4 linked regions of the Homo sapiens genome follow. Changing the gene in region 1 together with any one later gene gives a genetic interaction. Each region holds a gene or a part of one and is shown in the gene's direction. Other genes may lie near its edges.

Evidence for each region.
Region 2: changes in MMP25 (region 1) and XIAP together harm fitness less than expected from each alone (positive genetic interaction), as found in Homo sapiens cells (one large-scale study listed by BioGRID).
Region 3: changes in MMP25 (region 1) and MAPK3 together harm fitness more than expected from each alone (negative genetic interaction), as found in Homo sapiens cells (one large-scale study listed by BioGRID).
Region 4: changes in MMP25 (region 1) and PRKCZ together harm fitness more than expected from each alone (negative genetic interaction), as found in Homo sapiens cells (one large-scale study listed by BioGRID).

What each region holds. Positions count from the first base shown.
Region 1 is NC_000016.10:3,053,022-3,056,588, forward strand, and holds part of MMP25 (matrix metalloproteinase-25 preproprotein), read left to right. Parts: exon of another isoform or gene 1-785; coding exon of another isoform or gene 786-1,754; exon of another isoform or gene 1,755-2,011; intron 2,012-2,034; exon of another isoform or gene 2,035-2,153; intron 2,154-2,234; coding exon of another isoform or gene 2,235-2,317; intron 2,318-2,714; exon of another isoform or gene 2,715-2,808; coding exon of another isoform or gene 2,809-2,928; intron 2,929-3,567. Other genes in the region: sialidase-like, read right to left, coding at 786-1,754. UniProt on the Homo sapiens protein: May activate progelatinase A.
Region 2 is NC_000023.11:123,908,486-123,912,052, forward strand, and holds part of XIAP (E3 ubiquitin-protein ligase XIAP), read left to right. Parts: 3' UTR 1-3,567.
Region 3 is NC_000016.10:30,116,903-30,120,277, reverse strand, and holds part of MAPK3 (mitogen-activated protein kinase 3), read left to right. Parts: intron 1-1,739; coding exon 1,740-1,929; intron 1,930-2,114; coding exon 2,115-2,231; intron 2,232-2,493; coding exon 2,494-2,608; intron 2,609-2,992; coding exon 2,993-3,124; intron 3,125-3,274; coding exon 3,275-3,375.
Region 4 is NC_000001.11:2,168,895-2,172,461, forward strand, and holds part of PRKCZ (protein kinase C zeta type), read left to right. Parts: exon of another isoform or gene 1-556; intron 557-599; coding exon of another isoform or gene 600-623; coding exon 624-710; intron 711-3,160; coding exon 3,161-3,296; intron 3,297-3,406; coding exon 3,407-3,494; intron 3,495-3,567. UniProt on the Homo sapiens protein: Calcium- and diacylglycerol-independent serine/threonine-protein kinase that functions in phosphatidylinositol 3-kinase (PI3K) pathway and mitogen-activated protein (MAP) kinase cascade, and is involved in NF-kappa-B activation, mitogenic signaling, cell proliferation, cell polarity, inflammatory response and maintenance of long-term potentiation (LTP).

The sequences.
Region 1 (3,567 bases):
AGGCCAGGCCCAGCTCTTTGCAGCCCCATATTAACTACATTGGCTGCTGGGGAGCCTGAGTGACGGGGGAAGGGGGCAGCCAGGGAGGGTGCCTAGGCCCTGTGGAGGGCTTGGTAAGGCAGAGGCTGGGGAGGCTGTGTGCCTCAACATTCACATATGGGCTTCGGCTGGGCGTGGTGGCACATGCTTGTAGTCCCAGCTACTCAGGAGGCTAAGGCAGGAGGATTGCTTGAGTCAGGGAGGTTGAGACTGCAATGAGCTGTGTTCACACCACTGCACTGCGGCCTGGGTGACAAAGTGAGACCCTGTCACACACACAGAAAAAGAGAATGTGGGCTTCAAAGCTGAATTCAAGTAAGTCAGGGTTCTTCCACTTGTAATGAACAACTTCCTTAACCTCATTGTCTCAGGTTCCTCGCCTGAGAAATGCGAGGAGAACGGCGCCTGCTGGTGGCGTGGGCTTGCCGATGAAATGAGCCATTCACCCATGCCTCTCAGCACAGGGCCTGCCCTGGGCCGCATACTGTGCATTGTCAGCTGCTGTCGGAGCTGGGCTAGCGGCCGCCTTGAGAGCCAGCAGTCCACGGGGGTTGGCGAGCTTCTGGGAGGAAAGGGTGGAACGTGACTGTCAGGTACAGAGCTACAGAGAACCCCAGCATGAAGGAGTAGGTGGCAGGGGAGAAGGACTCAACAGAGATGGAGAAAGACTAAGCCCAAAGGTGATCAACAACAAGAGTGAAGGAGGAAGTGGTCAGCTGTGGCTGGGGCAAAACAAGCCCAGTAAGTTACATTGGCCTGTGTTTGGTCATCCAGGGACAAAGTGACCTTTTTAGTGCCTGTAGGCCCAGCGCGTTGGGGAAGAATTTAGAATGCAGTGGGGATAGGTGTGAGAGGAGCGGGGGAAGTGAAGATTGAGTTGAGACCACTGGCTGGAGAACTTGACCGGGAAGGGAGGGCAGAGAGCAGCATGGGGTGAGGGGAGGGAATGGATCCAACGAGCGTCTTAGGATGAGGGAGTTGTGAGCGCTCAACACCATTACAAAGAAGGGATCGGGGATTGATAGACTGACAGATGCATGCACAGAGGCAGGTATGGATGCATGCACAGAGGCAGGGATGGATGGACGGACAAATGCATGCATAGAGGCAAGGATGGATGGATGGACAGATGCATGCACAGAGTCAGGGATGGATGAATGGACAGATGCATGCACAGAGGCAGGGATGAATGGACGGACAGATGCATGCACAGAGGCAGGGATGGATGGACGGACAGATGCATGCACAGAGGCGGGGATGGATGGACAGATGCATGCACAGAGGTGGGGATGGATGGATGGACAGATGCATACACAGAGGCAGGGATGAATGGACAGATGCATGCACAGAGGCAGGGATGGATGGATGGACAGATGCATGCACAGAGGCAGGGATGAATGGACAGATGCATGCACAGAGGCAGGGATGGATGGATGGACAGATGCATGCACAGAGGCAGGGATGAATGGACAGATGCATGCACAGAGGCAGGGATGGATGGACAGATGCATGCACAGAGGCGGGGATGGATGGATGGACAGATGCATGCACAGAGGCAGGGATGAATGGACAGATGCATGCACAGAGGCAGGGATGGATGTACGGACAGATGCATGCACAGAGGTGGGGATGGATGGACAGATGCATGCACAGAGGCGGGGATGGATGGACAGATGCATGCACAGAGGCAGGGATGGATGGATGCACAGATGCATGCACAGAGGCGGGGATGGATGGACAGATGCATGCACAGAGGCGGGGATGGATGGACGGACGGATGCATGGCCAGAGGCAGAGATGGATGGGTGGGTAGATTGGACGGACAGATGATGGTAGGTTGTTCTTGTCCTGGAGGAGGTGATCCAGGCTGAGTCCTCACACTGGGCAGAGCAAGAGGCAGGAGGTGAGCATGGGGAGATGCAGCTGTGTGCCCCAGTGCACCGGAAGTTACAGATGACATCGATGTCCTGTCCTGATGAAACAGGAAACACATTTGTCATTTGAGAGTTAGTGGCTGGGGCTGGGTGGAAGCTTGAGGGGCTGTGGGCCTGGAATGGGGCTGAGGGGAGCGTGCAGGAGCTGCCTGCCAAAGCCTGGAGCAAGGATGACAGGAGGTGCCGGGGCCCCTGTGGACTGCCCTCTGGGAATCTTGTGGGGCTGGGTCTGCACAGCTGTGGTTGTGTAACTTCCCCCAGATGCATGGCGTGACAAGGGTGCAGGAAGGGGTGCAGGGCCCGGAAGCCCAGTATGGCCAAGGAGAGACAAGGCAGGGAAGAAGGTGAGAGATGAAAGATATCGCCCTGATTGAAACACCAAACTACCCCCAGTTTCTCAGAAAAAGGACTCAGAGCAACAAGAGAACCTACAGTCGACAGGGAAATTCGTCAGTGCGGATGTGATTTGAGCAAGACCATTGAAGCCCCTGCTGAAAGGCAGGCTGGCAGAGCCAGGGTACCTGGCCATCTACCTTGAAGTCTCTGTGCCTCAGTTTCCTCCTCTGTAAAATGGGCATAGGAGACAGGTTTGGTGAGAAGTGAACGAAAACGTGTTTGCTACCCCTCTTAGGTCTCACGTTTCATGCTTAGACGCTCAGCGAGTGGCTTTAGGGACCGAGAGAAATTTGCTTTTCAGTTCACCAGGTCGTTACCTATGAACCTGCCCTGAACAGTGCTGACCTTAGTTAGAGATGGCCATGAAACTCATCCGCATGGGGTAACTGGGGCCTCCCTGTGGTGCTGCGGGGCTGTGTCTCTGTCTTGGTCTCTTCAGGCCTCTCAGCAGCTGGAGCAGGAGCTGGCAGGCGGCTCACCGGTTGATGAGGAGCTGGGCTTCAGCCGGGGCTGGCGTGTGAATCCTCTGGGTCCTGGCAGTCCTGAGCGCCTGAGCTGAATACAGAGGGAAGAGGCTGGGAGCAAGGCCGGGTGCTGGGGCCGGCAGGCTGTGTTCTGAGAGTGCCTGCTAGAGGAGCTCTGTGTTCCCAAGGAGATGGAGGAAGACCTGGGGTGGGGGTGGTACAGGGTAGGGAGAGGAGGGGCAGAGGCTGTGAACAGGGAGATGGGGGAGGGGGGATGGAGGACTCAAGGGATGTAAGGGATATGGCTTGAGGAGGGATGGGGGCAGGAATGAGGGAAGGTCTTGGGTCAAGGACATGGACCTACATCCCCAGCAGATGGGGGTGGCAAGGGGGAGACGGGTGGGGGTCGCTGACTATAGACTGTAGCTGGGAGGAGGGGATGCTCCCAGGGCTGGGGCTGCCTGAAGAGAATGGCACGCACCTTGTAGGCTCCTGCCCTCACCCCACCGCCCTCTTAAGTTTCTTTTATTTTCTTTTTCTTTTTTTTTCTTTTTACTTTTTTTGAGACGGGGCCTTATTCTGTCCTCCAGGCTGGAGTGCAATGACATGGTCATGCGTCACTGCAGCCTCCACCTCCCGGGCTCCAGCGATTCTCCTGCCTCCCTGCCTCAGCCTGGGACCTGAGTAGCTGGGACCACAGGCATGCGCCACCACTCCTGGCCAATTTTTAAAAT
Region 2 (3,567 bases), on another chromosome or scaffold:
TGTACACTGCTTGTAGTTATAGTGACAGCTTTCCATGTTGAGATTCTCATATCATCTTGTATCTTAAAGTTTCATGTGAGTTTTTACCGTTAGGATGATTAAGATGTATATAGGACAAAATGTTAAGTCTTTCCTCTACCTACATTTGTTTTCTTGGCTAGTAATAGTAGTAGATACTTCTGAAATAAATGTTCTCTCAAGATCCTTAAAACCTCTTGGAAATTATAAAAATATTGGCAAGAAAAGAAGAATAGTTGTTTAAATATTTTTTAAAAAACACTTGAATAAGAATCAGTAGGGTATAAACTAGAAGTTTAAAAATGCTTCATAGAACGTCCAGGGTTTACATTACAAGATTCTCACAACAAACCTATTGTAGAGGTGAGTAAGGCATGTTACTACAGAGGAAAGTTTGAGAGTAAAACTGTAAAAAATTATATTTTTGTTGTACTTTCTAAGAGAAAGAGTATTGTTATGTTCTCCTAACTTCTGTTGATTACTACTTTAAGTGATATTCATTTAAAACATTGCAAATTTATTTTATTTATTTAATTTTCTTTTTGAGATGGAGTCTTGCTTGTCACCCAGGCTGGAGTGCAGTGGAGTGATCTCTGCTCACTGCAACCTCCGCCTTCTGGGTTCAAGCGATTCTCGTGCCTCAGCTTCCTGAGTAGCTGGAATTACAGGCAGGTGCCACCATGCCCGACTAATTTTTTTTTATTTTTAGTAGAGACGGGGTTTCACCATGTTGGCCAGGCTGGTATCAAACTCCTGACCTCAAGAGATCCACTCGCCTTGCCCTCCCAAAGTGCTGGGATTACAGGCTTGAGCCACCACGCCCGGCTAAAACATTGCAAATTTAAATGAGAGTTTTAAAAATTAAATAATGACTGCCCTGTTTCTGTTTTAGTATGTAAATCCTCAGTTCTTCACCTTTGCACTGTCTGCCACTTAGTTTGGTTATATAGTCATTAACTTGAATTTGGTCTGTATAGTCTAGACTTTAAATTTAAAGTTTTCTACAAGGGGAGAAAAGTGTTAAAATTTTTAAAATATGTTTTCCAGGACACTTCACTTCCAAGTCAGGTAGGTAGTTCAATCTAGTTGTTAGCCAAGGACTCAAGGACTGAATTGTTTTAACATAAGGCTTTTCCTGTTCTGGGAGCCGCACTTCATTAAAATTCTTCTAAAACTTGTATGTTTAGAGTTAAGCAAGACTTTTTTTCTTCCTCTCCATGAGTTGTGAAATTTAATGCACAACGCTGATGTGGCTAACAAGTTTATTTTAAGAATTGTTTAGAAATGCTGTTGCTTCAGGTTCTTAAAATCACTCAGCACTCCAACTTCTAATCAAATTTTTGGAGACTTAACAGCATTTGTCTGTGTTTGAACTATAAAAAGCACCGGATCTTTTCCATCTAATTCCGCAAAAATTGATCATTTGCAAAGTCAAAACTATAGCCATATCCAAATCTTTTCCCCCTCCCAAGAGTTCTCAGTGTCTACATGTAGACTATTCCTTTTCTGTATAAAGTTCACTCTAGGATTTCAAGTCACCACTTATTTTACATTTTAGTCATGCAAAGATTCAAGTAGTTTTGCAATAAGTACTTATCTTTATTTGTAATAATTTAGTCTGCTGATCAAAAGCATTGTCTTAATTTTTGAGAACTGGTTTTAGCATTTACAAACTAAATTCCAGTTAATTAATTAATAGCTTTATATTGCCTTTCCTGCTACATTTGGTTTTTTCCCCTGTCCCTTTGATTACGGGCTAAGGTAGGGTAGAGTGGGTGTAGTGAGTGTATATAATGTGATTTGGCCCTGTGTATTATGATATTTTGTTATTTTTGTTGTTATATTATTTACATTTCAGTAGTTGTTTTTTGTGTTTCCATTTTAGTGGATAAAATTTGTATTTTGAACTATGAATGGAGACTACCGCCCCAGCATTAGTTTCACATGATATACCCTTTAAACCCGAATCATTGTTTTATTTCCTGATTACACAGGTGTTGAATGGGGAAAGGGGCTAGTATATCAGTAGGATATACTATGGGATGTATATATATCATTGCTGTTAGAGAAATGAAATAAAATGGGGCTGGGCTCAGTGGCTCACGCCTGTAATCCCAGCACTTTGGGAGGCTGAGGCAGGTGGATCACGAGGTCAGGAGATCGAGACCATCCTGGCTAACACGGTGAAACCCCGTCTCTACTAAAAAACAGAAAATTAGCCGGGCGTGGTGGCGGGCGCCTGTAGTCCCAGCTACTCGGGAGGCTGAGGCAGGAGAATGGTGTGAACCCGGGAGGCAGAGCTTGCAGTGAGCCGAGATCTCGCCACTGCACTCCAGCCTGGGCAACAGAGCAAGACTCTGTCTCAAAAAAAAAAAAAAAAGAAATAAGAAAATGGGAAGCAATATTTGACATAGTTCTTTTTAGTCAAATCTACTTGTTAAAAAAAGGGTAGCAGTTTATTCATCTGTGAAAGGAAAATAATACTTATCTTACAAGGTTGCAAGAGCTCAAGGAGACCATGTATGTAAAGTTCCTGCTGTAAATATGAACTCCCATCCTAATACCCTTTTACCTCTCTGTGGGTTTGTCTTGACCTGGAAATTTGGGCTAAAACTTAGAAAAAATTCTTACATGATAACTCAGTGATGCTTACTCATAGTTTTTGGTGTTTCTCATAGATAAGATATAAATCAGCTGGGCGCGGTGGCTCATGCCTGTAATCCCAGCACTTTGGGAGGCCGAGGCGGGCAGATCACCTGAGGTCGGGAGGTCGAGACCAGCCTGACCAACATGGAGAAACCCCGTCTCTACTAAAAATACAAAATTAGCTGGGCGTGGTGGCTCATGCCTGTAATCCCAGCTACTTGGGAGGCTGAGGCAGGAGAATCGCTTGAACCCAGGAGGCGGAGGTTGTGGTGAGCGAAGATCGTGCCATTGCACTCCAGCCTGGGCAACAAGAGCAAAACTCTGTCTCAAAAAAAAAAAAAGATATAAATCACAATAAATAAATAGGTCAATACAAATGTTAGCCAGGCGTGGTGGCACATGCCCATAGTCGCAGCTACTCTGGAGGCAGAGGCAGGAGGATCACTTGAGCCCATGAATTTGAGGCAGCAGTGAGCTATGATTGTGCCACTGTACTCCAGTCTGGGTGACAGAGTGAGACCCCATCTCTAAATAAATAGGTCAAACCCTTAAAAATATTTAAATTCTTAAAAAATTGAAAAGATTATTCTTCTCAAATTTAGTTGAGCTTTCTAAGAGAAGCAATTGGCTTTTTCCCACTTCAATAATCATTTTCAGTTTGACTCATACAGTTAACACAATGTGAATTTCTTCCTCAGCATAACAGAGTTATAGAATGACAGGGCTGGAAGTGACCTTAGAGAGTATCCAGTTCTTTCATTTTACAGGTGAGGCAACTGAGACTCAAAGGTGATGTAATTTGTGCAAAGATTATAGCTAATTAGTAGCAGAGCCCTGACTGGGACATAGTTTGAAGGTGAAAAACTTCACCAAGCTACCTTTCTTGAAAGGTCCAAATGTTTA
Region 3 (3,375 bases), about 27 Mb from region 1:
CGTCTCGCTGGGCCTCCCCAGCCCTAAAACAGCAGGGCTGGTCCACATATTCTCTGAAGACCCTTTCAAGGCTGATTCTTGTTTTCTTTGTTTTTTGTTTGTTTGTTTTTAGATGGAGTCTCCCTCTGTTGCCCAGGCTAGAGTGCAGTGGCTCAATCTCAGCTCACGGCAACCTCCACCTCCCAGGTTCAAGCTATTCTCCTGCCTCAGCCTTCCAAGTAGCTGGGACTACAGGCGCCTGCCACCACGCCCGGCTAATTTTTGTATTTTCAGTAGATGCGGGGTTTCGCCCTGTTCACCAGGCTGGCGTCAAACTCCTGACCTCAGGTCATCAACCCACCTTGGCCTCCTGAAGAGCTGGGATTACAGGCATGAGCCACCATGCCTGGTCTCAAGGCAGATTCTAAAAGACAGCCCTGACTTATTTTTCTAGAGACAAGCCAAACAGCATTTGTGGATTTATTTATTTATTTACGCATAAGCTTTTTTGTATCTTCAAATAGAAAAAGACATTTTACTCCTCCATCTTCTGAGGTATGGCCAAGCACTCTCCTTTGAGTGGGAGTGTGCTGTTGGGAGTGTCTCCTCATTTTTCTTGCACAAACCATTCCCATAAGGCAGGCATTTATTTTTAAGCAAACATTTATTGCATGCCAGATGGTGTTCATACATTATCTCATTTAACTCCCTCAACAGCCATGTGACTCAGGCATTCATATTAGTAATAATAGTTCATGTTTGCCTAGCACTCACAACTTGCCAAGCACTGGGCTGACAGCTTTACATGCGCCATCTCATCTAGTCTTCACAACCACCCTCAAAAGAACCATTATTTCATGGCTTGCACCTGTAATTTCCAGCACTTTGGGAGGCCGAGGTGGAAGGAACACTTGAACCCATGAGTTCAAGACCTGCCTGGGCAACAGAGCAAGAGCCCATCTCCACAAAAAGAAAACAAACAAACAAACAAAAAAACATTATTTCCCCTACATACCAGATGAGAAAGTTGAGGCACAGACAGGTTGAGATCCTAAAGCCAGTGAGTAGTAGAGAGGAGATTTCAGACATCCATGGGTTAACTCCAGAGTTGCTGCTCTTTTTGTAGGTTTTTTTTTTTTTTTAATTTATTTATTTTTGAGACAGAGTCTCACTCTGTCATCCGGGCTGCAGTGCAGTGACACAATCTTGGCTCACTGCAACATCTGCCTCCTGGGTTCAAGTGATTCTCGTGCTGCAGCCTCCTGAGTAGCTGGGATTACAGGCACATGCCGCCGTGCCCAGTTAATTTTGCTATTTTTAGTAGAGACAGGGTTTTGCCATGTTGCCCAGGCTGGTGGTCTCAAACTCCTGGCCTCAAGCAGTCCTCCCGCCTCAGCCTCCCAAAGTGCTGGGATTACAGGTGTGAGCCACCACTCCTGGCCCAAGTTGCTGCTCTTAACTGTGAAGTTCTCCTGCCTCCCACAGTTTATTATTATCCCCGTTTCCCCGGTAGGGAAACTGAGGCCTCAGAAATGAAGCCCCTTGCTCAGGATCAGCAACTGTGATGCAACAGAGGCTCAGAGCCCTGCCGCTGGGTAATGGCAGCAGCTTCCCCAGCTGGTGGTGCAGGTTGGCAGATCTATTGAGTCCCAGGGGCCCTGGCTGGAGGAGGTGTGCAGCCTCGCCTTCAGAGCCTGTTTTCCTTAACCAAGTGCCTCCCACTGCCCCCTGCCTGGGGGGGTCTGCGGAACCATCCTCAGCTACATTGTGCAGGACCTGATGGAGACTGACCTGTACAAGTTGCTGAAAAGCCAGCAGCTGAGCAATGACCATATCTGCTACTTCCTCTACCAGATCCTGCGGGGCCTCAAGTACATCCACTCCGCCAACGTGCTCCACCGAGATCTAAAGCCCTCCAACCTGCTCATCAACACCACCTGCGACCTTAAGGTCAGAGGGTTGGGCACCTGTCCCCTCCTCCCCCAGGGTCTGGGGCTTCCAGTGACCAGTAGAAGAAGCCTTGGGCAGGAGAACATTGCAAGCAAAGGGAACAGTGGAGGCAAAGACAAGGGGGCGTGACTGCTTAGGCTGCAGAGGCCTTGAGCGCCGAGCTTAGCAGCTAGGTCTGATTCCAGATTTGTGATTTCGGCCTGGCCCGGATTGCCGATCCTGAGCATGACCACACCGGCTTCCTGACGGAGTATGTGGCTACGCGCTGGTACCGGGCCCCAGAGATCATGCTGAACTCCAAGGTAGGAGGGGCTGCCCACTCCTGAAAGGAACGGACCAGTTCCCAGGAAGCCCTGGAGCTACCTCTGAGCCAGACACTGACCCCCATGACACAGGAATTCTACCCTCTGGGCCTTGGGCTCTGCAAGGAAGCTGAGCATTGAGCCCTCCAGGCCTCTGCCTTCTGCCTGGTGTTGGATCTAACTTGGAGGTGGTGGCCTGGCGCAGACAACAGGACCCTGTTGAGGCTGGCCCAGGAGCTCACCACTTCCTCCTCTCCCCCAGGGCTATACCAAGTCCATCGACATCTGGTCTGTGGGCTGCATTCTGGCTGAGATGCTCTCTAACCGGCCCATCTTCCCTGGCAAGCACTACCTGGATCAGCTCAACCACATTCTGGGTGAGGGAGGCCCGGCTGGCTGAGTTGGGGATGATTAGCTTTTCCGAGGTGAGATTTCTCGAGAGTCCAAGTCAGGGATACCACCACGTGTGGGGTGCCTCCAGCATCTCATGGTATCTCAATGAGGTATAGATATTATCCCCATTGGATAGATGGGAAAAGCAAGGCTAAGTCCCACACCTGAGGAGGCACCAGACCTAGGATTTGAGCCTCGGTCTGCCTGAACCCAGCCCCCTTGCTCTGCACCACCATGCTAATGACTAGGAGGTGACTGAGGGATTGGCATGGGTTGCTGGGCTGGGGGGTCTTGTTCTTGCCTTGTTGCCTATTCTGTTCCCAGAAAGAAAGAGGTGATCATTTACCAAGTCACCTCCTTATCCACAGGCATCCTGGGCTCCCCATCCCAGGAGGACCTGAATTGTATCATCAACATGAAGGCCCGAAACTACCTACAGTCTCTGCCCTCCAAGACCAAGGTGGCTTGGGCCAAGCTTTTCCCCAAGTCAGACTCCAAAGGTTCGAGAGACATGAGGGTGGGTGTGGGATAAACCTTGGGTGTCGTGGAGGGTGTGTGAGCCCAGCAGCCGCTGGAGGAGACAGGCAAAGCAATGCTTCTCGGAGCTCCTCCAGTCTTCCCTGTGACCCCTGACTCCTGCCCTTCCATAGCCCTTGACCTGCTGGACCGGATGTTAACCTTTAACCCCAATAAACGGATCACAGTGGAGGAAGCGCTGGCTCACCCCTACCTGGAGCAGTACTATGACCCG
Region 4 (3,567 bases), on another chromosome or scaffold:
GAAGAGAAACCATGTGGCCCAGTCCCTGAGACGGGAAGGGCCTGCGTGGTCCTGATGACATCTGCGGATCTTTTAAAATCATACGATCATGTCTGCGAAACCGGGATGCCACTTCCCACCTGGCTTCTCCCTGACCCCAGCTTGTTCCCTTGGAGGGCCGGTGGACTCCTCAGCCTTGCAGCAATGAAATCAGGCCTTGAGGCCACCCCACCCGTGACCTGCGGTGCTGTCCCCATGCAAGAAACTGCCTCGCTCCAGCCCCCAGCAGATCCTGTCCCAGCCCCCAGCCCTGGTCCAAGCCACCTCCACTCCCACCTGGTGACGGGCCACCTCCTTCATTCCGGGGCCCACCCACACTTCCCAAGTCCACACACAGTGGCCAAGAGTGAAGGCCGGCGAGGCCCCCGCATGACTCCCTCACCTGCACCCTTCACGAGCGGCCCCGCAGCCCGTCCCCACCAGCCCCTCTCTGCTGCCAGGGTGCTCCTGCTGCTCTTTGCTCTTTGCAAGACTGAACCTGCGGGAGGGTTCGGGCCCACGAAGGCCGCTTCTGTGGGGCTTCTGTCTAAGGAGGCCGCCGTCTGCCGAGGTGACTGCAGCCTCCGGCGCCTCTCTCCCTGCAGGTTGTTCCTGGTCATTGAGTACGTCAACGGCGGGGACCTGATGTTCCACATGCAGAGGCAGAGGAAGCTCCCTGAGGAGCACGCCAGGTGGGTGCGCGTGGACGGGGCCGGGTGGGTGCGCCCGGAGTTGGGGATGGGTGGGTGCGTGCGGTGTTGGGGGGCTGGGTGGGTGCGCACAGAGGGATGACGGGTGGGTGCGCGCGGAGTTGGGGGGCCGGGTGGGTGTGCGCAGAGGGGAGGTGGCTGGGTGGGGTGTGCACGGAGGGGGTATGACGGGGGCGGGGGGGGCGGGGTGCACGTGGAGGGGGCCGGGGACCTTCTCCAGGGGTCAGCAGGGAGCTCAAGGGAGGGAAGTCCAGGTAGGATGGCAGAGGGCATCATGTCCCCCACAGTGTGACGTCCCCTGCATTGTGACACATTCCATATTTGCTCCAGAGTCACAACATTTGGGAGGTCTCCTGAGTTATGGTGCCTCAGACCAGTCCCCCAGGCCCCACCCCTGAAGCAGCACCATGCCTCATCCGAGAGAAGTGAGAGTCTCCTGGGATTGTGCTGTCTTCATGGTGGCTCTGCCCTGGTTCTGCTCTTCACCCTGTTAGTGGCACAGCATGGCCAGCATTTCCTCAGCGTTAGGAGCAGAACGAGAGTGGTCTGTTTCTAGAGTGACCTGAGAGACTCCTTCCTGCCCTTCCCTTTCATCTCTGATATCTTCGGGCCTCCCCTGGCAGCCGAGGGGCCTCCAGCATGGTTCAGGAGCCTCCCCCGGCAGCCGCGGGACCTCCAGGACCGTTTGGGGGCTTATTTCAGCTCCCTGGACCTTTCCTGTCTTTTGTAGTTTCTCCTTTTCCTCATTTCCTTACTTAAGAACGTTGCATGCAGTTTTGTGAGTCACCTTAGATTGTTTCTGGCAATAGGACAGTAGGCAATAAATCTAGAACAGTACACTTCCCACAACGCTGTTTTTAAAAACTGTGGCAACACACAACATAAAAGGTAGCATTTTGGGGCATGGAATTCAGTGGCGTTGAATGCACCCCATGCTTTGCAGCCACTGCTGGCCCCCGTCTCATCTCCAGAGCACGCCCCTCTTCCCTGCTGAAGCTTGGCCCATCAGACACTCCCTCCCTGTCCCCCGCCCCAGCCTCACATCCTCACCCCAGACGGGCACGTCCCACTTTCTGTCCCTCTGATTCGAGGACTCTAGGGACCTCATCGGAGTGGAATCACAGTGTTGGTCCTTCGGTGGCTCATTTTCCTGAGCATAGCGTCCTCAAGATTCATCCGTGCTGTGGCCTGTCTCAGAATTGCCTTCCTTTTTCAGGCTGGATAATGCCCCGTTGGATGGAGGGGCCACACTTTGCTTATCCGTCCATCCCTCGGGGGGCACTTGAGTGGCATCCACATGTTGGCCATGGTGAACAGTGCTGCTGTGAACATGGGTGTGAAGTAATCTCTTGAACACCCTGCTTCCGGTTCTTTGGGGTATACACCCAGAAACTGAATTGCTAACCACATAAGAATTCCATATTTAGGCCGGGCGTGGTGGCTCACGCCTGTAATCCCAGCACTTTGAGAGGCCAAGGCGGGCGGATCACGAGGTCAGGAGATCGAGACCATCCTGGCTAACACGGTGAAATAACACAGTGAAACCCTGTCTCTACTAAAAATACAAAAAATTATCCAGGTGTGGTGGCGGGCGCCTGTAGTCCTAGCTACTCGGGAGGCTGAGGCAGGAGAATGGCGTGAACCTGTGGGCAGAGCTTACAGTGAGCCAAGATCGCGCCATTGCACTCCAGCCTGGGTGACAGAGTGAAACTCTGTCTCAAAAAAAAAAAAAAAAAGGTCATATTTAATTTTTTTTTTTTTTTGATGGAGTCTCGCTCTGTCACCCAGGCTGGAATGCAGTGGTGGGATCTCAGCTCACTGCAGCCTCTGCCTCCCAGGTTCAAGTGATTCTCCTGCCTCAGCCCCCAGAGTAGCTGGGACTACAGGTGTGCGCCACCATACCCGGCTAATTTTTTTGTATTTTTAGTAGAGACGGAGTTTCGCCATGTTGCCCAGGCTGGTCTTGAATTCCTGACCTCAGGTGATCTGCCTGCCTCGACCTCCCGAAGTGCTGGGATTACAGGTGTGAGCCACCAAGCCTGGCACCGTGTTTAATTTTCGAGGACCTGCCGGACTGTCTTCCGCAGCAGCGGCGCTGTTCTGCACTCCTACCACAACGTGCCATGGCTCCGGTCTTTCCCGCATGGAAGCTGTCGTGTTATTTGCCCGCTCCTCCCCTTGTGGAGGCTGCCACATCGTTCTCTGTGTCTTTGACAGCAGGCCATCCTAAGGCGCATGGGGTGGTGTCCTGGAGCTTTCATTGGCATTTCCCTCCCTGGCCCTGTGCACTGCACTTTCAAATCCTGGGCCTGGTCATTGAGAGGATGCCGGGCCCGTGGTGGGGCAAACGGGAGTGTGTGGCCCCCAGGCTGGAGCTGTTGGCGCAGCCTCTGGCACAGGCACTGCCCCCATGACGGCATCCCCACCCCCAGGTTCTACGCGGCCGAGATCTGCATCGCCCTCAACTTCCTGCACGAGAGGGGGATCATCTACAGGGACCTGAAGCTGGACAACGTCCTCCTGGATGCGGACGGGCACATCAAGCTCACAGACTACGGCATGTGCAAGGTGCGTGCCTTGGACCGCCTCCCCTGACCATCCCGCATGTGCGTCTCGGGGCGCCTGTCCCGCGGGGTAGTGTCTACAAGAACCCTCTCCCAGTAACTTTGCCCCCACAGGAAGGCCTGGGCCCTGGTGACACAACGAGCACTTTCTGCGGAACCCCGAATTACATCGCCCCCGAAATCCTGCGGGGAGAGGAGTACGGTGAGTGCCGCTGCCCTGGCCCCTCTCGGAGCACACAGGGCCAGAGATGGCTTCGGGCCTGGCCCAGCAGCCA